Homo sapiens: one gene and its partners. The protein of the gene in region 2 purifies or fractionates together with the protein of the main gene of each other region. This does not show direct contact. Each region holds a gene or a part of one and is shown on either strand. Other genes may lie near its edges.

Region 1 (3,940 bases), on a different chromosome or scaffold from region 2:
TGGCCCGTGGCTGACAGTCTCGGTGGGCGCTGTGTTAAGGTGGCGTCCCCAGCCAGGTCCCGACTCCCCAGCTTAAAGAACAGGGTGGCTGCTGTGGCTTGACTCACGAGTTGCCACTGGCCTTGATGTGTACACGCCCTTGCTCTAGCACTGCCTGGGGCTGGCCTGGCTGGAGGGTAGGGACGCTGCACGCCTTCCCTCTTCCCCCAGGCGCTGGTGACACTGCCCTGCAACCGTCAGCACCATCATCTCCACAACTTGCTCTGTCCCCTTCAAACCCTGACTCCCAGCTGCCCCGCTCCCCCAGCCCCGGCACCCACCATTCTGCTGTCTCTGAACTTGGCTATTCATAGACGTCACATAGGTGACTCATAACTGTGTGCGACCTTTTGTGTCTGACCAACTCCTCTTGGCACAGTGTCCCCAAGGTCCCCCAGGCTGGAGGCTCTCAGTGCTTCCTTTTTATATGGCTGAGGACTGTTCCACTGCAAGGACAGACCACGTTGTTGTTTACCCGTCATCTGTCCATGGACACTGGAGTGGCTTCCACCCTCTGCCTGGGAATAGGCTGCTGTGAACTTGGGTGTAAATATTTGAGTCTCTGCTTCCAATTTCTGAGAGTAGCTTTGCTGGATCTTATTAGAATTCCATGTTTAGCTTTTTGAGGAACCACCAAACTGTTTGCATAGTGGCTGCACCGTTTCCCATTCCAGCCAGCATTGCACGAGGGGTCCAGTTTCTCCACATTTTCACCAACACTGTTTTTTGCTAACAGCCATCCTAGTGGGTGTGAAGCGGTACCTTAGGGTTGTTTTAATTTGCATTTCCCTAATGATCAGTCATGTGGGATCTTTTCAGTTGCTTATGGTGTTTGTCCTTTTTTTTTTTTGAGATGGAGTCTCACTCTGTGGCCCAGACTGGAGTACAGTGGCGCCATCTTGGCTCACTGCAAGCTCTGCCTCCCAGGCTCAGGCGATTCTCCTGCCTCAGCCTCTCAAGTAGCTGGGATTACAGGCGTGAGCCACCACACCTGGCTCATTTTTATTTAGTAGAGACGGGGTTTCACCATGTTGGCCAGGCTGGTCTCAAACTCCTGACCTCATGATCCGCCTGCCTCGGCCTCCCGAAGTGCTGGGATTCCCGGCTTCTCTGCCCATTTTTAACTTGAGTTTATTGTTGGGCTGTAGTTCTGTGTTCTGGATGTGAGTCTCTTACATACGTGGTTTGCCAGTGTTTATTTTCTCCCATTCTGTGGGTTGTCTTTTCACTCCCTTGATGGGTTTGTTTTTTTTTCCATATAGAGTCTAACTCTGTAGCCCAGGCTGGAGTGCAGTAGCACGATCTTGGCTCACGGCAACCTCTCCACCTCCCAGGCTCAAGGAATTCTCCTGCCTCAGCCTCCCGAGTAGCTGGGACTGCAGGCATCCGCCATCACGCCTGGCTAATTTTTTTGTACTTTATTAGAGATCAGGTTTCACCATGTTGGCCAGGATGGTCTCGATCTCCTGACTTCGTGATCCGTCTGCCTCGGCCTCCCAAAGCACTGGGATTACAGGCGTGAGACCCTGCGCCCGGCCTCTATGCCAGTCTTTATGCCAGTATCACACTGTTTTGATCATAACAGCTTTGAAGTAATTTTTGGAATCAGTATGTACGAGTCTCTCAACTCTGTCTTTAAGATTTGTTCGATGATTTGGGGTCCTCTGAGACTCCCTATGAACTTTAGGATGTGTTTTTCTATTTCTGCAAAAACTGTCATTGGGGTTTTGATGGGGTTGCATTGAATCTGCAGATCACTCTGGGTGGTATTGTCATCTTAAAAATATTGAATCCATCAGGCTGGGCGCTGGGGCTCACGCCTGTAATCCCAGTACTTTAGGAGGCTGAGGCAGGTGGATCACCTGAGGTCAGGAGTTTGAGACCATCCTGGCCAACATGGAGAAACCCCGTCTCTACAAAAATACAAAAATTAGCCAGCCGTGATGGCAGGCACCGGTAATCCTAGCTACTGGGGAGACTGAGGCGGGAAAATCGGTTGAACCCAGTGGTGGAGATTGTAGTGAGCCAAGATCGTGCCACTGCAATCCAGCCTGGCGACAATGCTAGACTCCGTCTCAAAAAAAAAAAAGTGGCGTATGGATGTCTCATGTCAGCTTTATGTAGTGGGTGGCACTGTTTGTGCGTGGATAATTGTGGTGTCTTGGCACATTGACCCTTTTATCAATGTATAACATCTTTGTCTCTTAAAATAGTTTCAGCCACTTCAGCTCTCTTTTGCCTGTTTATATGAATACTTTTCCATACCTTCACTTTCAACCTGTTTATGTCTTTAAATCTGAAGTTAGTCTTTCAGGCCGGGCATAGTGGCTCACACCTGTAATCCCAGCACTTGGGAGGCCAAGGTGGACGGATCACTTCAGGTCCACAGTTGCAGACCAGCCTGGCCAACACAGTGAAACCCCGCCTCTGCTGAAGATACAAAAATTAGCTGGGCGTGGTGGCGGGCACGTGGGATCCCAGCTACTCGGGAGGCTGAGGCAGGGGAATCACTTGAACCCAGGAGGCGGAGGTTGCAGTGAGCCGAGATCGCGCCACTGCATTTCACCTTGGGTGACAGAGTGAGACTGTCTCCAAAAGAAAAAAAAGAATCTAATGCCTGATGAGCTGAGGTGGAACAGTTTCATCCCCAAACCACCCATCCCCACCCCCGGCTGGTAGAAAAACTGCCTTCCATGAAACCAGTCCCTGGTGCCAAAAAGATTGGGGACCACTGGTTTAAGTCCTGTAGCTTTACAGACCATAGCTAGAAAGGCAACTGGTATTAATTCACCCTGCACGAGGACCTCCGTCTGCCTCCGCTGAGCTGCTGTCTGCTCACTTCCCCGGGTGGCACACCGGCCTGCATGTAACCAACTCCTGAAGCTTTTATCTGGGAATGTCCTCTTTTTTGGGGGGTGGGGAAGACAGGGTCTTGCTCTGTCACGCAGGCTGGAGTGCAGTGGTACGATCTCAGCTCACTGCACTCTCCACCTCCTGGGTTCAAGAGATTCTCCTGCCTCAGCCTCCTGAGTAGCTGGGATTACAGGTGCGCGCCACTACACTCAGCTCATTTTTTCTGTGTGCTTTTTGTGTAGACACGGGGTTCTCACAGTGTTGCCCAGGCTGGTGTCATACTCCTGGCCTCAAGCAATCTTCCCGCCTTGGCCTCCCAAAGTGCTGGGATTACAGGCATGAGCCACGATAGCAAGCCTTAACTCTAATTTTTGAAGGGCTATTTTTAGAATTCTCGGTTTTGTCAGTTTCTTCCATTGAATGGTACCTGTTTTCCTGTTTCTTTGAACGTCTTGTGCTTTTTGTTGAAAACTGGTCCTTGGCCGGGCGCGGTGGCTCAAACCTGTAATCCCAGCACTTTGGGAGGCCGAGGTGGGTGGATCACGAGGTCAGGAGATCGAGACCATCCTGGCTAACGCGGTGAAACCCCGTCTCTACTAAAAATACAAAAAATTAGCCGGGCATGGTGGCGGGCGCCTGTAGTCCCAGCTACTTGGGAGGCTGAGGCAGGAGAATGGCGTGAACATGGGAGGCGGAGCTTGAAGTGAGCCAAGATCATGCCACTGCACTCCAGCCTGGGTGACAGAGTGAGACTCCATCTCAAAAAAAAAGAAAACTGGTCCTTTGAAAACAGACTCTGCCAGTCTTTGCAGACAGGTTCTGTGCTTGGACCCTGGGGATCAGTGTGAGGTCTCTTCCAGGACCCGTGCATCTCTTCCGACTCTCGGGCAAGTGCTTCAGCCTGGTGGAGTCCACGTGAGTGCAGGGTGGGTGCGAGGGTGGGCTGGGGCGCAGCCTGCGGACCCCCCTCATGCCATCTGTGTCCCCAGGTACAAGTATGAGTTCTGCCCGTTCCACAACGTGACCCAGCACGAGCAGACCTTCCGCT
Region 2 (3,940 bases):
TGCTCCTGGCAGGAGGACGATGGCCTAGGTCCATGAGGCACATGGCTTGGCTCAGGGGGCTCCTCCGAGTCCATCCAGGTCATCCCACTGGCCAGAGCGGCTGGCCACAAGCCGCAGACATATGCACCGAGGCAATTTGTTGATGCATTGGCTTGAACTGCCATTTGGTCCCTGTCCTATTCCTGGACGATTTGATTTAACTTGACAGCGGTTTACTGAGCAGTTATTATGTGGCAGGGTCTCTTGCCCACTGGTCCCTAGGAACAAAGGGCAGACTCAGAGAGCAGCAGGAGGGAGAGAATTGGTGTTTGTGATTCACACGGTATGTCAGCATCCTGAATCAAAATCTACTCTCCCTCCCCACTTCTCTCTCTCTTATTGTGTTCACTTCCCTTCCCTTTTTTCCCTCTTCTTCCCCTCCTCCTCACCCCCTTCCCTTCTATTCCCATTTGTCCTCTCCCCATCTCTATGTCTCATCTTATTTTTTCTTCCCATATGGTCCTCCACCTCTCTCTGCTTTTTCTCGGTGTCTCGGTCTCTTTTTCTGTGTGTGCAGTTCTCACCTCTGCCATTCTTTTGGGCCCCTGTCTTTTTCTCTGTGTCTATATCTCTAACTCTCTCTTTTTACATCTCTCTCTCTATGTCTCTTCATCTCCATATCTCTCTAGCTTATCCTCTTTTTGCCTTTCTCCCCATCCCTTAATTGCACCAGATAACAAAAAGGGTGGCGGTTCCATCCAAACCTTGCTCTTGAAAAACGTTCTTTTAAATATGCAGTGAATGATCCCACCAGGACCACTGCCTGCAAGGCCGTCTTTCCCTCTGGTCTCTGCACAGCAAATGCAGCCGACCACCAAACGGGACCCTCATCCGATTCTGTGCTTTGATCTTTGCCAGGCTAAAGTGTGGGTTTACTTTCTGTTCAGAACCCGAGCCTCCTTCCCATTGATCATTCGTCTTTCGTTACGATGCTAACACCTAACAAGGGGCACCGCTTTTCCAGGTTCAGGGGCTCCCTTTGCCAACCACCTGGAGACCCACAAGGGTGAACTTTACACTTTCGAGTGTGGGGCAAAAGCTTCTGAAATGGTTTCAACGTCAGGAATGTGAGAGTTTGGGAGGTTATCCGAAAGACACTCGATACATATTTAGGCCTCAGGATGGTTTGTGGCGTGGTCAGCAGACTGACTCTGAAATCTTATTCTGCTGTTTCCTTGCTTCTTGGTCTTGGCCCAGTCTTTTAGACTCTGAGCCTCTGTTTTCCCCATCTGGAAATGGAACTAATAGTTCCCAACCCACTGGATTCTCTTCAAGAGAAGAGAGAAATAATTGAGATAAAGTGGACAGCAAAGAGCTTGTCCCTTCTCATAGCTACACCCTAAATGAGGAATGCGATGGACTTAGAGAATTCCAACTCTGCCATGCTCTGTGACCACGGAGAGGCACTTTGTCACTTGATCCTCACCTTCCCATCTGGATCCCAAGCTGTAATATTAGCCCCTGCCCCGTAGGGTCCACGGGAGGCACCTGGAGTGCACGGGGCTGGTGCAGAACAGCGTCTCAGTCCTTGCTGGCTGTTAGGATGGTTGTCATTGCAGGGTCATTGAAACAATGGCATCTCTTTAGTGGGAGTCACGGTTCAGGTGTGGGAGGCTGGAGTTCTGTCTCCATTTCCCTCGTGACTCATGATATGACCTTAAACAAGTGACTTCATTTCTACCTTTTCCCATTTCCTCTTTCATCAAATAGGGGTAATCATATGCGCTAAAGTGCTCAGAGAGATAATTGCAATGTTAAATCAAGCCATTATTATTCCATGCTGGCTTTTTAAATAAAAACGCTTGCGGCTCCTCTGAGCCCTCAGCTGACTACAATATAGAAATATCATCGAGAAGCCAAGACGTCAAAAAGATCATTCCCTTTCAAGGAACTCTGGGCCCTGGGTGAAAAGAGGGTCTACCTTGTGCTGGCCCTTTAAGCAGTGCTGTCTCAGTGCAGGAAGATGATACACCCCAATCACAGATGAGAAGACTGAGGCTTGTGGAGGAGGTGGCACCAAATGACCGCAGAGCCCATGCCTTTCCCTCTCAAGGAAAAGGTAAATCCCAAGGCAAGCCTCCCCAGGTCCTCTCAGTATTTGCCAGGAGAGCAGTCCAGGCAACTAGAAAGGGCTCAGGGCTGAAGAATGGGGCCAGTTGCTTCCTGCCTCTTCCATCAGGAAACCCACCTGACCTCCTGGCAAGAGATCCATCCACTAGCAAGGCATAAAAAATGTTTTATTATTTAAGAATATGTTCAAGTGCCTGAGGACTCAAGAAAATTAGCTTAAAAACTATTAGAATCATAAAATGTTTATAAAACCAGTCAAAGTACGGTCAGCAAACCTTGTCTGTAAAGGACCAGAGAGTAAATATTTTGGGCTTTCTTGGCCCTACAGTCTCTGTTTCAGCAATTAACTCAGCTTTTGCAGCATGAAAACAACCACAGACATAGATGCAAACAAAGGGGCATGGGTGTCGTATTAGCCAAGGTTCTCCAGGGAGGCAGAGCCAACAAGGTGTGCCTATCCGCAGAAAGAGATTGACGTAAGGAATTGGCTCATGTGATTAGGCAGGCTGGTGAGTCTGAAACAACCCCACCTGTTAGGGGAGAATCACCCCACTGCCCCATCAGCCCCTCTTTCCCCTACTGGGCTATTACAAAGCACCCGAGGTAGCAGCTGAGAAAAAGCTTCACAAACTGCCAAGTGCAAAGGACTTTTCCTTGTGTGGCCTCCGGGTCCTTGGCCAAGTCTGTGAAAGAAGACCATGCAGGCCCTCCATCAGGGTCAGATACTGACATCATGCCTCCCGCTTACCAAGGGGGCTTGCTTCCCACTTCTCATCCCGATGATCGGCAAAGTTCCTTTCCTCCTTGGCCCATCCCTAATCAGACATGATAGGCAGGCAGGGCTCTCTCTTATGTGTGACTTCCCAGCTCCATTCCTTGGCAAATCCCCATCAGAAAGGTCGAAATGCTTCCCCTGGGGCCCATCTGACATTGTTCAGTAATGTATTTATCCTATAAAAGGAAGGAAATAGGATCACCTATGAAATTGTGAGGGCCAATGTGTCTCTACTAGGGTCCCCTTTTAACCCGGAGGGATCTGGACAGGAGCCCAACTCCCCCATTCATAACTCCAGGTGAACTTGGATGAGCAAGTTCCCCTTTCTCAGCCTCAGTCTGGCCCTCTGTAAAATGGATATTAAAAGAAAAACATGCACCTCTGGGGCTGCTGTGAGGATTGGAGCTAATATGTACAAAGCAGTAATGCACAGCCTGGCACCCAGTAGGCTCCTGAGAATCGGTGGCTGTTGCTGGGTTGACAGGATCATGGATGAAGGGCATTCAGCCCAGACCAACACCCAGCAGGCCCTCCGTCCACGGCAGTGAGTCATGCAGCAGCATTTTTTGTTTCTGCAGTGTGCCAAGCTCTTTATGATCTCTCCTTTTTGCCCTCTTCTTTTCCTATCCCCTACAGCTCAAGTAAGACTAGACTGGAGTCTTCATACTCCCCTCTCCAAAGCACCTACTATGTGCCAGGTGCTTCAAGCACAAGCTAGGTGCTTCAAATGTGATCATTTATTTAGTTCCTATGTCCACCCTCTGAAGCATTATTATTAGCCCCATTTTGTAGCTGAGAAAACTGAGGCACAGTAAAGCTAAGTCATTTTCCTAAAGTGGTGGTAAGTGGTGGGCTGAGACCTGAGCCCACTTTACTGACCACTTGGTGATCCTGCTTCGGGGTCAGGAAAGAATTTGAGGTCCTACCTCTCCTTTCTCAACAGCTGTGTCCCTTCCACCCCATGCTGCTTCTCCGAGTTAGAGTGGGTAATTCAGGGGCTGCAGACTCACTTGTCTGTCAGGCAGTCGGCAGTGAGGGAAGCCCCAGGTGGTTCCG
Region 3 (4,247 bases), on a different chromosome or scaffold from region 2:
AACTAGGTCTTCATTTGACAAAGTTGGACACAAGAGTCCCCCCTACAGGTAGGAAGTCCTGCTAAAGGCATGACCATTAGTGAAGGTAAAGATGGCTAGAGCCCAGAAAGCAGCAGCGATGGAGAGAACATACAATGGTGGCTCGGTGACAAGTGTATGTGCTGCACTCCACACCATTCTGGGATAGGTCGGTCCTGAAGAAATGCTGAGATATGAGCAGGTCTGACCACTGGAGTTCGAAGCAACAGAGCTGAGGAAAGAGTCATTAGGATGATCATAAGAACCTCTCCTTTAACAGGACTGACAAACTTTCTAAATGACCATAGGTAAGCTACTTAACAATAAATAGGGGATAACATCTTATTTGTAAAATGAAGATAGCATCTATTTCACTGGGGTTACTGTGAAGTTAAGACCAGGGAACATCTGCATGTTCCCTACTTTATTTAATGACACCTCAGGCATTCTTTAACCTAACTCAGTAATCTGGAAATCATGAGAGACTTTTCCCCTAAATTCAATCGCCAAATCCTATTGGCGTATCTCTTTAACAGTTCTTGAGACAATCTTCTTTTCTTTGTGCTACTTTCCTAGTTCAGGACCTCATCTTGCCCGGACTACTATGACAGTGTTTTCCTCATCAGAATGAAAGCTCGTTGAGGGCGGGAACTACGTTTTCTTCACATTTGTATCCTAGCATTACTACAGTACCTGAGGTAACACAAATGCCCAGGTTAAATGATTTTCGAACTGATCCCCCCTCCACTCCCACATCCAAACACACCAACTCCAGAAGAAATGGGCAAGCTCCTAACCCTCTTTCCCGACTCAGGGTGGGAGCGAGTGGGGAGCATTCTAGGGACAGTGAACGGGGAGAAAACAGAACTGCTATGTGGATTAGCCTCATCAGGACTGCGACTTCCAGAGGGAGCTCTCTTTCTGATTATTCCCTCAACTCGTCAGCTCACAGCAAGTGAAATATACCTTCGGGTAAACATCTGGACCCCTAGACTACAGTGGTCATTGCTGTGATTTCGGTATTTTCTTCTCCTCAAGAGATCTCCCACCCGGCAGATGAGTCCTCACTTCCATCCCCTTCCCTGGCTGGAGGCTACGCTAAGCACCTCAGGGTGGGAAGACCCCTCACCTCGGCCTCCTAGGGCACCGCAAACGGCACTCAGCCTCCAGAGAACCGCCATCTCGTTCCTGAGGGCTCAAGGTCATCCACCAACCCGGAACCACTTAGGCGACAATTCCCACCCACGACGACGAAAGAAAACAGGGAAGAGGAAATGCTGGGTGAACCGGAAGTCGAGAGGCGGTGCACACCCGTCGCGCATGCGCAAACACAGCTGTCGGAAGGTGGCGAGCCTGAGGCGAACAATGGCGGAGCTGGGCGAAGCCGATGAAGCGGAGTTGCAGCGCCTGGTGGCCGCCGAGCAGCAGAAGGCGCAGTTTACTGCACAGGTGCGGGGACGGGGAGGGTGAAGGGAAAGGAAGTTTCACCTTCCTTGGTGGTCCTGGGCACGCTCGGAGGTCTGTACACTGGCGGCTCACTGGTGCTCGATCCCGGCTGCATCCCATTCCCCTCACGAAAGACAAAGTTATGGCTCTCCTGTCCCTGGTGACCGGTAGTGCTCAGGTGCCAGGTATATAAGCGTAGCGTGGAGAAAAGAAAAGGTGTAAAACAGGGAAGATTTGGGCGACGCAAGGGTACGGGAGACTAGTTAGCCGGCGACATGACTGGGCTGGCATTCGAAAGATCTGGGTTCTCATCCTCCCTCTGCTCCTTGCAGGCCACGTGCCCGTAGAAAAGATACTCATCCACTGTGGGTTTTGGTGTCGCCGTCACCCCACTGCCTCACTGGATTGTGAGGATCATATGCGACAATGTATTTGAAAACGACTAGAACATTATCGGAGGAAGGTGGACTCTGAAGTAGTCGCTGTAGACTATGGATGTAGAACAAGGGTTTGGAGCCCTTCGGACATGGTTCTAACGCGGCCTGACTTCTTGCTGGCTACATGACCTTGGACTACATAATCACGCCTCTTAAATGGGAGGTGATGACAGCTATCCTTGAGGACCTTAGAGAGAACTGATTTCTTAGTACCCAGCCTCACAAATAGTAAGCTCTTGGTAAAATGGTTTTTTCCTTTTGGGTGGGAGGAAGAGGGTGCTCGGATGACCAGCAAGAACCCTGGCTAGAAATCTTTGGGCCCTGAACATTCTAATGACAGTGCACATAATTTCTGTGCCTGTATGTGCATTTTTCTGGGGAGTGGATCCATAACCCCCAAAAGGTTAATGGAAGAATTACCTTGTCTAGGGGATAGGTTTGGAATAAAATGAGTGCAATAGTTTGGGAAAATTAATTGGTTCCCTAGTTGGTTCACAATGGTGCTAGCTACTTTGGGGAATATAAAAGGTTATTAGTCCTACCTGAGAATGTACAATCTGTAGGGACGAGGATCTGGATCAATATTGGTGACTAATTAGGAAATGAAGAAAGAGAAGAGCCCAAAGTGACTCCGTGGTTGATTTAAAGAATGGTTTTGTCAGGTGTCAAAAAGTGAGAAGTTAATAAACAAGAGTTAGGCCTATCTGCAGACCCCAATGGTTACTATTTTTCTTTCCTTTTAGGTGCATCACTTCATGGAGTTATGTTGGGATAAATGTGTGGAGAAGCCAGGGAATCGCCTAGACTCTCGCACTGAAAATTGTCTCTCCAGCTGTGTAGACCGCTTCATTGACACCACTCTTGCCATCACCAGTCGGTTTGCCCAGATTGTACAGAAAGGAGGGCAGTAGGCCATCCCCCAGGAGAATGACAGAAGCAAAGGACTTGTTACTAAGCAGATTTAAGGGTCAGTGGGGGAAGGCTATCAACCCATTGTCAGATCAGCATCAGGCTGTTATCAAGTCTGTTGGTGCTAAAAAGTAAAAGATGAAATGTTCAAAGAGTGAAATTTATTTATTTGGAATTCAGAAATTCCAGGTTGTATGACATCAGTTACTCAATAAGTGTGAATTCTCCAACTCTTCTTTTAATCCCATTTTAGAATTTAATATAGAGATCTCTGATTGGCAGGAACACTAGAAATAAATGTTCCATGGCCAGTAGTGCAAATGGGGGATTGTAGGTTTTGAAAAACCACCCTAAGCCATATTAAGGGGGTTGGAAGAACCATCGAAGCCTAAGGCATAGAAGAAAATTTGGGGTTAAGAAAGATGAAGAACAAAAAACAGCTTTATTGCTTATACATGACCAAGAAAAGGAAAACATGGCAAAAAAAAAAAAAAAAAGGCAAGATGTGTATTCCTTGCGAAAGAACAAGCCTGCTAACTTGGGAGGAAGGGAAGGTCAGGACCCAAATAGAGCCAATTTCCTGGAGATGGCCTGTTCTACTGGCACATTTTCCTGAGTCTGTGCTTAAAACCTTTCAGGTACTTTCAGGGCACAGAAACAATGCATGCTAAAAAATATATGGCCAAAGCTCCTTCCAACAAAGATTTAACTTGCTCCAGGAACAAAATAATTGCTTTAGGTTAAGAGGTAGTAATTAGAGACTATTCTTCTCCCTTTAGACCCCCACTAATCCCAAAAATAAAAATACACACCATGGAACACTGACAATTGAGTACCAAAGTATTAAAATTTAAAATAAATATCCCAAAAGGTAGCACCTGCTCATAGTTAAGGGATAGGGCACCTCTGTCCAACCATGTATTTTAAGACCAAGCACTTTATTAGAAATCTGTCCCGTAAAGAGAACAAATTTAGCAGTTAGAACTAAAAATACCAACTCATGGAATGTCATCATAGTTGTATCTACTGCTGGTGTCTTATACTGTCATGCTACTGTGAAGTAATTCCGTATTACACATCAGGAAAGTAAGGCCAGGAAGGTGAACTTACCTGCTCTGGGCCTCCTCATAACCAATGAGTGGCAGAACCAAGACCGAAAGTCTGAGTTTTCAAGCTTTTTACTCAGCCCATTAAGTGACAACCAGGAAAAAATAATACGTCACTTGATCTTTCTTCCCACAGTGAAAAAATGCACTTGCGTTCTGCCAGCCTTCTTTCAGTGATATGTTGGTTTCTTAAGAATTAACATACTAAGGATCACAGTATAGCAAAGGGAATTAATGTGGTCTCTGCTTGGTGCTTTAATCCAAAGGCAGACTGGGAAGAAGTGGATATGTCCCTGAGAAGCCTGTTTCATTTTGGAAATAATTCAACTTA
Region 4 (4,637 bases), on a different chromosome or scaffold from region 2:
AGAAGTATAGGCAATGGACCTCTAAGATCCCAAAGTCACGTTCTCCACTTTTGTCAGAGAAAGCCCGCTGGATTTGGAAAGAGACAGGTCAGGCTCCAGTACTCAAAAGGATACAGTAAGGTCATAGCGGAGGGACAACAGCTCTCCACCTTGATCCTTCAGATCATACATGAGCCCAGAGTCCTCTCCATACTTCTCAGTCAGGGTTTCCTATAGGGGTCAAACAGAATGAGCCACAGTTGAAAGCATGACTCCAAAACACAGATGAGAAGCCCTTTGGGACACTGAACGCCATTGAAGAAGTGAGTGAGGTTGCACGTACTCTTTCTTCTCCCCTTACCTTCAGCTCAAATGCTGGGGTGTCCATCCCCTTTGCTCCATGACGTTTAAAGCAGCTGATAACCAAATCAAGAATTTTCTCCCTCACAACCATATGCTGAGGACTAAGATCCCTGGTACCCTGGAAACCAAAAGCAGCCATAGTGAAAACAAAAACAAAAAATAAGTCCATTTCAGACAAGGAGTTAAACTACACTTATTATGTAATCTCAGGTCTGGAGCTGAAATCTACTGAGTTCAAATGACTCTGAGCCGCACCTAGTATCTCAAGAATAGTATATATTTTTAAAATTTACTGTAAAGAACATTAAAAGGGGTCAGAGAGACATGCAAGGCAGAGGTCAGTCCTCCAAGGCACTCTAATGGGATAGGGTAGGCAAAAAGTATTACCTTTGGGGTCTTGATAATAAAATTTGGTTTCTCTTGATGTGCTTTCAGTTGGGATGTTAACACTGCCTCTGCAACCTGGCAGAAGAATGAATGTGAGATGTGGCTTCTCTGGACACTGGCCAGACCTGTGGCATCTCTGACCCTGTTGACCACCAACCTGCAAAGACTCTTCACCCTGAGCAACAGGAAGCCAAAGCACCATTTCATCTATCCCAATCTCAGTCCCACCCCAAAGAATCTATGTTGTATTTACAATTACACGTGTAATATATATGAGGTCAGGTCTTCACCACACAAGCTTCCTCACTGTATATGGATTTTTTTTTTTTTTTTTGAGACAGAGTCTCGGTCTGTTGCCCAGGCTGGAGTACAGTGGCACAATCACGGCTCACTGCAATCTCTGCCTCCTGGTTCAAGCAATTCTCCTGCCTTAGCCTCCCGAGTAGCTGGGACTACAGGCGCGCCACCACCACGCCCAGCTAATTTTTGTATTTTTAGTAGAGATGGGGTTTCACCATGTTGGCCAGGCTGCTCTTGAACTCCTGACCTCGTGATCCAACCGCTTCAGCCTCCCAAAGTGCTGGGATTACAGACATGAGCCACCGAGCTCAGCCGCATTTTTAATATTCTCAAATACTTTAAGAATCTGAGAATAATGAAGGCACTGAACAACCCACCACTACCAACACCAACCATTCAGGGGTAGGGATTATGGTGATCTTCTCCAGGTCACCGTTCCTACTGAAAGAGCAAAAATAATTTTTTTTTTTTTTTCAGATAGAGTCTTACTCTGTCGCCCAGGCTGGAGTGCAGTGGCACGATCTCAGCTCCTGCAACCTCCGCCTCCCGGGTTCAAGCGATTCTCCTGTCTCTGCCTCCCGAGTAGCTGGGATTACAGGCACATGCCACCACGCCCGGCTAATTTTTGTATTTTTAGTAGATACGGGGTTTCGCCATACAGGTCAGGCTGGTCTCAAACTCCTGACCTCAGGTGATCCACCCCCCTTGGCCTCCCAAAGTGATGGGATTACAGGCATGAGCCACTGTGCCCGGACAAAAAAATAATAATTTTTAATAAGGTAGCACTGGTTATCAGGTTTAGAGAGAGGAAAACTGTAACTTGAAGACAAGGGAACCAGCTCAAGGACACAGAACAAGCCTGTGGAATGATAAGATATGGATTTCTTGAATGAGCTAAAAAACTCAGACTGATAAGATGCTGTGATTGAATATCAATAAAAGATCTGTGCCCTATTGTTCACGATAGCACAAAGCATCTGCTAAGAGAGCATTAGAATCTTTCCGAAGTAAGGCAAAACTTAATCAGTGACATTACCAGCACGCTGTATGCCCTTCCAAAAATAGAGGATGTGGTGGTTCCATACTATGGCGATTATCTGCCCTAAGAGAAGTCCAAGTTCAAGTACACAATCCCTTATCTGCAATTCCAAAATCCAAAACTCTCTGACATCTGAAAATGTTTTTCTGAGATTCATTTTGAGGTAAATTCTAAGATGAACTCAGTCTACTTCTGATCTTTAGTCATCTCATTTACTAGGAATATTCATATATTTCGCTTAAAAATGTTACTGTTTGAGTCCAAGAGTTTCAGGAAAAAGTGTGGATATGAATTAAAATACTCCCTTACTACATATCCGTGTATAAGTCATTCATTTAATCTTGCAGCCTCCGTTTCCTCAACTGCAGAATGGAAATCAAAACTCCAACCTCTCAAGATTGCTCCAAGGATTAAATGACCAGGCATCCAAATCGCTTAGTTCAGTGTCAGTACATAGTGGGCACTCGATAAAAACCGATTGTAACACTACTGGAATACAGGCCGCGAGGCTATGCGTTCAGATCTGGAGACCCTGCTGGGACAGACCAGAGATAATTCTGTCTCGCTCACCTGGCTTTGGCAACGGACCGCCCCGGTGCACGAAGCGCAGGGCGGTCGCAGGAGCTGGCTGAGCAGCGAAGCCCAGGCCCTCCTGGGAAGAAGTCCGAGCAGGGGCATCGCGCGGCAGGACGCCGGCTTTCCGGGACAGGAACAAAAGGCCTGGGAAGGAGGCGGGTCAGACACCAGGAAGGGTGGAGGGCACTGCAAAGGCGGAACCCGCGCACCAGGGAAAACTCGGGCGTTTGCGCACCTCACTAGTCACGAAGGCTGAGGTGGGATCCTCCCAAGTTCCCTTAGTAGCCAGCTTCGGCACTTCCGGGAGGAGCCGGAAATAATTTTTGTGCTCGGCGGAGGCTCTCTAGGCGTGCGACCCAGCGACTCGATAGCCGGAAGTCATCCTTGCTGAGGCTGGGGCAACCACCGCAGGTCGAGACAGCAGGCGGCTCAAGTGGACAGCCGGGATGGCAGAGCGTGCGGCGCTGGAGGAGCTGGTGAAACTTCAGGGAGAGCGCGTGCGAGGCCTCAAGCAGCAGAAGGCCAGCGCCGAGCTGGTGAGATTTAGGCAGCAGGGGAGAGGGCCAAGGCAAAGCCTGGGAGGACGTAAAGCCAGGGTGTTCGGGACATAGGGTAGAGATGTGAGGGAAGCGACCAGTCTTGTAGGGAGGAGAGTGGGCTGCGTGGGGAGACATCCGGGGTGGGTCCCGAGAGAAACAAAGCTAGGCCTGAGCAGAGAGATGTGATGAGGGAGGAATATTGAATGAATGGCGGGGGAGGGAGGAGAGTGACAGATGGATAGCTCAGCGCCTTCTTTCCCTCCACAGATCGAGGAGGAGGTGGCGAAACTCCTGAAACTGAAGGCACAGCTGGGTCCTGATGAAAGCAAACAGAAATTTGTGCTCAAAACCCCCAAGGTAATATCATTCCTGTAGGGAGCCACTGAGAAAGTCTCTAACTCTACTCACGGGGCGCTTATGTCTGCCTCCCTAAACCAGGTCATTGAGGAGGATCTGAAATGCTGCAGAGGAGAGGACAGTCGCTCTGGGCGCTGGGCTGGACTGGACTCTACCTGAGTCATTCTGGGATGGCAAAGTGATGGCAGAAACTAGGCCAGCTGGGTGATCAGGGGAGTCAGCCTGCTGCTGCTACTCCTTCGTTCATTCAATAAATGTGTATTTAGCGCTATGTCTCTAGCACTATACAAAGCACTGAATATATACCATGGTGGACAATATAGCCTACCCTCATGGAGCTTACATTCTACTGAAGGAGAGAGACTTAGAACAAATAATCCCACACAGATTTTTTTGTTTTTTTTTTAAACAGAGTATCCTCTGTTGCACAGGCTGGAGTGCAGTGGCACATCTTGGCTCACTGCAGCCGCTGCCTCCTGGGTTCAAGCGATTCTCCTGCTTCAGCCTCCTGAGTAGCTGGGACTACAGGTGCCCACCACCATGCCCAGCTAATTTTTGTATTTTTAGTAGAGACGGGGTTTCACCATATTGGCCAGGATGGTCTTGAACTTCTGACCTCAAGTGATCTGCCCGCCTCAGTCTCCCAAAGTGCTGGGATTACAGACGTGTGCCACCGCACCCGGCCACCACATGTGGTTATGTAATTACATATTGTGAAAAATGATATAAAGAAATTAAGGTTGCTCTGAGAAAAATAAGGGAGAACTGGGGAGTCTGAGAAAGGCTAACTGAGGAAGTGATATACTAACTGATCTAATGAATGAGTAGGAGATAGCCAGAGGACAAGTGTGACAAAGATAGGTCCAGGTAGAGTATGGAAACCCTAAAGTGGGAAAGAACTTTGGTAGTTTTGAGGAACTAGAGGATGATCTACATGGCTAGAACTAAGTTAAGGAGAGTAGAGTGGAATGAGGTTGGAGATTCTGAGCTCATCCTCCAGTTCAGTTCCACTTTCTGTAAGTTCTATAAACAGAACTGTTTACCCCTTCATCTAGGTGCTCTTGGCACTTCATACATATTTGTTATTACACCAACTT
Region 5 (3,940 bases), on a different chromosome or scaffold from region 2:
GATAATACCTTTAACATATTAGTCATCAAATATTAGAGCTATAAATTTAGCATGGTAAATATGCACATTTCAAGTAGCCTTAGTTCTGAACACAAGCAAACAACTCAAACACGAGCAAGACTTACATATCTTGCAGTTCTTGCATAACAATCCGGTCAATCATGTGAGGCATGTGAGCAGGGACTTTCCGCGATGTGAATCCAAACTTGCTATTTAGAATTTTATTTACATATCTGAGGGAATCTGCAAATGTATCTTTTAGTTGCCTCCCAGTATTTTTGCTATCAGTGAAGTATGCCAATTGTGTCTTCAATGACTCTTCTTCCTGAAAAGAGAATTCTACATGTAACTCAGCATTATGTTTAGTGCACAAGTGTACTTTGTTACAAGACATTTTATATAATGTGGTAATAACTAGTCACGAACTCTTCATTAGGAGCAAATGAAATACATGTTAACGGGTCACTTTAAGGATCTAAACTGGACTTAGCAGGACTCAACTGGATTTCAGTGCAAGTATCACCAATGTTGGTTTGAGAACAACAGCTGTACGATGGAGATCTACATAACAACAGTCACATATGGAGGGTATTCTTCAAGGACTGGTCACTGACTGTGAGATGTCAAAGCTAATTCAATGCAACATTTAGAAAATTTATGTACATATACATTTGATAGTACTTTCAATATCAAGCTATTTCTGCAGGTGATATCAAATGTGCAAGTCCTTGAGTTTTAAGCGCAAGGACTAGAAACAAATTTGGTTTCATCTTATAATAGTTTTAATATTATAAAATCAAAACCAGTCAGTGGCAGAACTAAATAGGCAAAGAAAATTGGCAAAGCATTCAAACACTTTACAGAAATATTTTTGCTTCTCAAACTGATAAAAATAAAAATGTAAGGAGACTGATATTAACTGGTGTTGGTTAGACTGCAGTGAAACAAGCACTGTTGTATACTGTTTGTGGAAATATGAAGTGGTGCAACATTTCAGAAAGACATATTTAAAGTTTATACCTGCTAAGCTAGTAATTCTACCTGCAGAACTAAAACTCACTGAAATGTAAGATATATGTACAAGAGAATTCACTGCAACACTATTTGTAATCACAAAACATTGGAAATAACTAACCTGCAGCCATTAAAAAGAATAATGGCACTGGCATGGGTATAAATAAATAAATAAATAATGGCATTTGCCCACATCCTACTACATCAAAAGGCAACTGCAGGGAAATATATGTAAATTTACACTATACATATATTTCTCTATATATAACTATACATACATATAGGTATGTTTGCATAGCTATAGAAAAATACTGGAAGAATACCCATCAAACTATTAACAGCAATTATCTCCGGGAAGGAGACTGAAGAAGGAAGAACTTTCCTTTATTTACTGTATATTTTTGAATTGTTTGCAATTTTTACTACTAGCCTATAATGCTTTTGTAAATTTAAAAAAAAAAAAAAAAAAAAAGGAAAGAGGCCAGAGGCCAGGCACAGTGGCTCACGCCTGTAATCCCAGCACTTTGGGAGGCCGAGGCGGGCGGATCACCTTAAGTCAGGAGTTCGAGACCAGCCTGGCTAACATGGTGAAACCCCGTCTCCACTAAAAATACAAAAAATTGGCCAGGCATGCTGGCACATGCCTGTAATCCCAGCCACTCAGGAGGCTGAGACAGGAGAATCTCTTGAACCTGGGAGGCAAAGACTGCAGTGAGCCGAGATCACGCCATTGCACTCCAGCTTGGGAAAAAGAGCGAAACTCCATCTCAAAAAAAAAAAAAAAAGAAAGGAAAGGAAAGAAAATGGGGGAAACTGAGGAAATAAACATAGTCAAGAACACTGCAGTCCTTCACTAGACAATCTGTAAATGCCTCATGTGCAAGGCACAAGATACTTCCTAAAATGCTGAGGACATAGTTCCTCCTTCACTCTCTTTTCTCCCAGCCTAACACCCACTCGTGGCTGTGTGCCTTCACTATTCAGCCCAGACTGTATGATTTTTTTTTTTGGTCTGTCAACTCCCACCCCTTCGAAGGTCAGTCCACAGGGCACTTCCTTCTGTATGCCTTCCCTAGTACTTCTAGGCAGAGCTAAGGAGTCCTCCCTCTGAACTTCTTGCCCATATCTCAACACAGACACATCTCTTTGCTACAGTTTTCTCCCCACAAATTTGTCTTCTCTACTGGTCCCTGAGTTTCCACATGAGCAGTGGCTATGTTCCCGTCATCTTGCATTCCCCAGTGGTTAGCACCGTGAGAGCACTGAGGAGAGGTACAGATGACACCACAGCACAGTGAAGCCATGGTACAGGGCAACGAGCAGTCCAACTTTGAGGCTTGGCTCACACTGATTTGCTGTTATAATGTTGGGGAAGCGAATGAACTTAATTGAACTTCAGGGTTTTTCATCAGTAAAGCTGGAAAAATACCATATCTGAAATGTCAAGACAAGACAACATGCCACTTCCCACTCTCCTTCCTCCAAGTACGCCCCTGGCTAAATCCCTTACTCATTCACACTTGGGCTGTTTCCTAAACTACAAAATGGGGACAGCAATAATAAATACCTTCATATGACATTTTTTATTATTAGGGTTATTGGGTAAATTAAATGAAACCATGTAAGAAAAGCATTTAGTTCCATGGCCGGCACAGGGAAGTGCTGAATAAATGGTAGCTATAATGATATTATCATGAGATTATTTACTCTTCCTGAGCATGAGAAAGAATGAGGCTGGATGTTACTTACGTCGAGAAGATCTTGGAAATACTTTTTTTTCTCCCATGGCAAAAAGCCCAAGTAACTATCTGTGTAATGCTGCAGCTTTCTTCCAAGTAACACTTCAGTAACGCCTATGTGATTTTCAGCATTTTCCTCCATTCTACTGTTCTCTTTTTCTTTCCCTGTGATTTTCTTTTCTTTTGTCATCTGGCTTTCCAGTGGAACAATCAGAGATGGGGGCTTTTCTTTTGTCACATTTCCGCCTATGGTTTTTTGGGTGTGAGTTTCCACTCTAAATCTTGCTGTGGTCTCCAAGTCCAGGGGTGGATTCTGACCCTGGTCATGACCATTCACTTTTACACTCACTGCAGGAAAAGTCAACCTCTGCAATCTTTCAGACACTCCTAAGCTGTTTGGCAAGATGCTTTTATGAACCTGTTTTTCCTGTGGAGCCACCAAACTGTCATTTGTTTCATCTGTTATTATAGCTTGATTTTTTATTTTAGCATGCTGTGAGTTCATCAGAAATGATCTCAGCAAGGCTGACTTGGACAAATTGTATCCTTTCAAAGTGATGTCTCCATGTTCCAGTTGCAAATCCAAGGTATTGAGACTCAACTGGGCGTCTTTTGGAAGGAGTGAAATATTTACCAGGGGAATTTTCACCTCTTCCTGGGCTCTCCTTGTTGAGTTAACATCATGTCTCTTAAACTTCGGGAAGCGTTTTTCTTTGGGAATATCCTCAAAAAGGATTTCCGCCTCTGGAAGAAGTGTTATGGGACTAACTAAATTTTCGTAACCCTTCTGGGCTGTAGAATTCAGTTTTGGTCCCTCCCTTGTGTCCACCTCCACTGTTATCTGCATTTTGAACTCTTCATCGTTTGTATTTTGAAACGTGAGATTAAAATGTATTGTGGTGGCATTCATTCCACTGTGCATTATGAGGTGGATGGTTTTCCACTTGTTGGCAATAGAAGCATGTCGAATTATTGGATTGTCACTATAGGCACCTTCAACTCCTCTTTTGGCTACTTCTGCAAAGCTGAAATAAGGCAGGCATTCACCTTTTGGAATAATATAGTGAGTCTGGTTTGGGAGAAGGATCACTTTATACAATTCATGAAAATGATCTAGAGGAAAAAACAGAAACATGATTTTTTTTTTAACTGGGCATTTTTCCTCTGTTTTCCTTTAATTCTTTGAG

What was found.
Region 1: the proteins of PDYN (region 2) and GNPTG purify together in Homo sapiens (affinity purification with mass spectrometry, with the first as the bait; one large-scale study listed by BioGRID). This does not show direct contact.
Region 3: the proteins of PDYN (region 2) and TIMM8B purify together in Homo sapiens (affinity purification with mass spectrometry; 3 studies listed by BioGRID and IntAct, with this or other methods). This does not show direct contact.
Region 4: the proteins of PDYN (region 2) and HARS2 purify together in Homo sapiens (affinity purification with mass spectrometry; one large-scale study listed by BioGRID and IntAct). This does not show direct contact.
Region 5: the proteins of PDYN (region 2) and GNPTAB purify together in Homo sapiens (affinity purification with mass spectrometry, with the first as the bait; one large-scale study listed by BioGRID). This does not show direct contact.

Annotation. Positions count from the first base shown.
Region 1 is NC_000016.10:1,357,991-1,361,930, forward strand, and holds part of GNPTG (N-acetylglucosamine-1-phosphotransferase subunit gamma precursor), read left to right. Parts: intron 1-3,752; coding exon 3,753-3,807; intron 3,808-3,881; coding exon 3,882-3,940. UniProt on the Homo sapiens protein: Non-catalytic subunit of the N-acetylglucosamine-1-phosphotransferase complex, an enzyme that catalyzes the formation of mannose 6-phosphate (M6P) markers on high mannose type oligosaccharides in the Golgi apparatus.
Region 2 is NC_000020.11:1,987,501-1,991,440, reverse strand, and holds part of PDYN (proenkephalin-B preproprotein), read left to right. Parts: intron 1-3,940.
Region 3 is NC_000011.10:112,083,860-112,088,106, reverse strand, and holds TIMM8B (mitochondrial import inner membrane translocase subunit Tim8 B), read left to right. Parts: upstream 1-1,350; 5' UTR 1,351-1,383; coding exon 1,384-1,467; intron 1,468-1,796; exon of another isoform or gene 1,797-2,140; intron 2,141-2,644; coding exon 2,645-2,812; 3' UTR 2,813-3,307; downstream 3,308-4,247. Other genes in the region: SDHD (succinate dehydrogenase [ubiquinone] cytochrome b small subunit, mitochondrial isoform a precursor), read right to left, coding at 134-250, 1,148-1,199. UniProt on the Homo sapiens protein: Probable mitochondrial intermembrane chaperone that participates in the import and insertion of some multi-pass transmembrane proteins into the mitochondrial inner membrane.
Region 4 is NC_000005.10:140,689,758-140,694,394, reverse strand, and holds the start of HARS2 (histidine--tRNA ligase, mitochondrial isoform 1 precursor), read right to left. Parts: upstream 2,941-4,637; 5' UTR 2,747-2,940; coding exon 2,639-2,746; intron 2,601-2,638; exon of another isoform or gene 2,378-2,600; intron 905-2,377; coding exon of another isoform or gene 887-904; exon of another isoform or gene 805-886; coding exon 730-804; intron 461-729; coding exon 341-460; intron 211-340; coding exon 115-210; intron 1-114. Other genes in the region: HARS1 (histidine--tRNA ligase, cytoplasmic), read left to right, coding at 3,091-3,180, 3,451-3,540. UniProt on the Homo sapiens protein: Mitochondrial aminoacyl-tRNA synthetase that catalyzes the ATP-dependent ligation of histidine to the 3'-end of its cognate tRNA, via the formation of an aminoacyl-adenylate intermediate (His-AMP).
Region 5 is NC_000012.12:101,761,439-101,765,378, forward strand, and holds part of GNPTAB (N-acetylglucosamine-1-phosphotransferase subunits alpha/beta precursor), read right to left. Parts: intron 3,867-3,940; coding exon 2,764-3,866; intron 326-2,763; coding exon 126-325; intron 1-125. UniProt on the Homo sapiens protein: Catalyzes the formation of mannose 6-phosphate (M6P) markers on high mannose type oligosaccharides in the Golgi apparatus.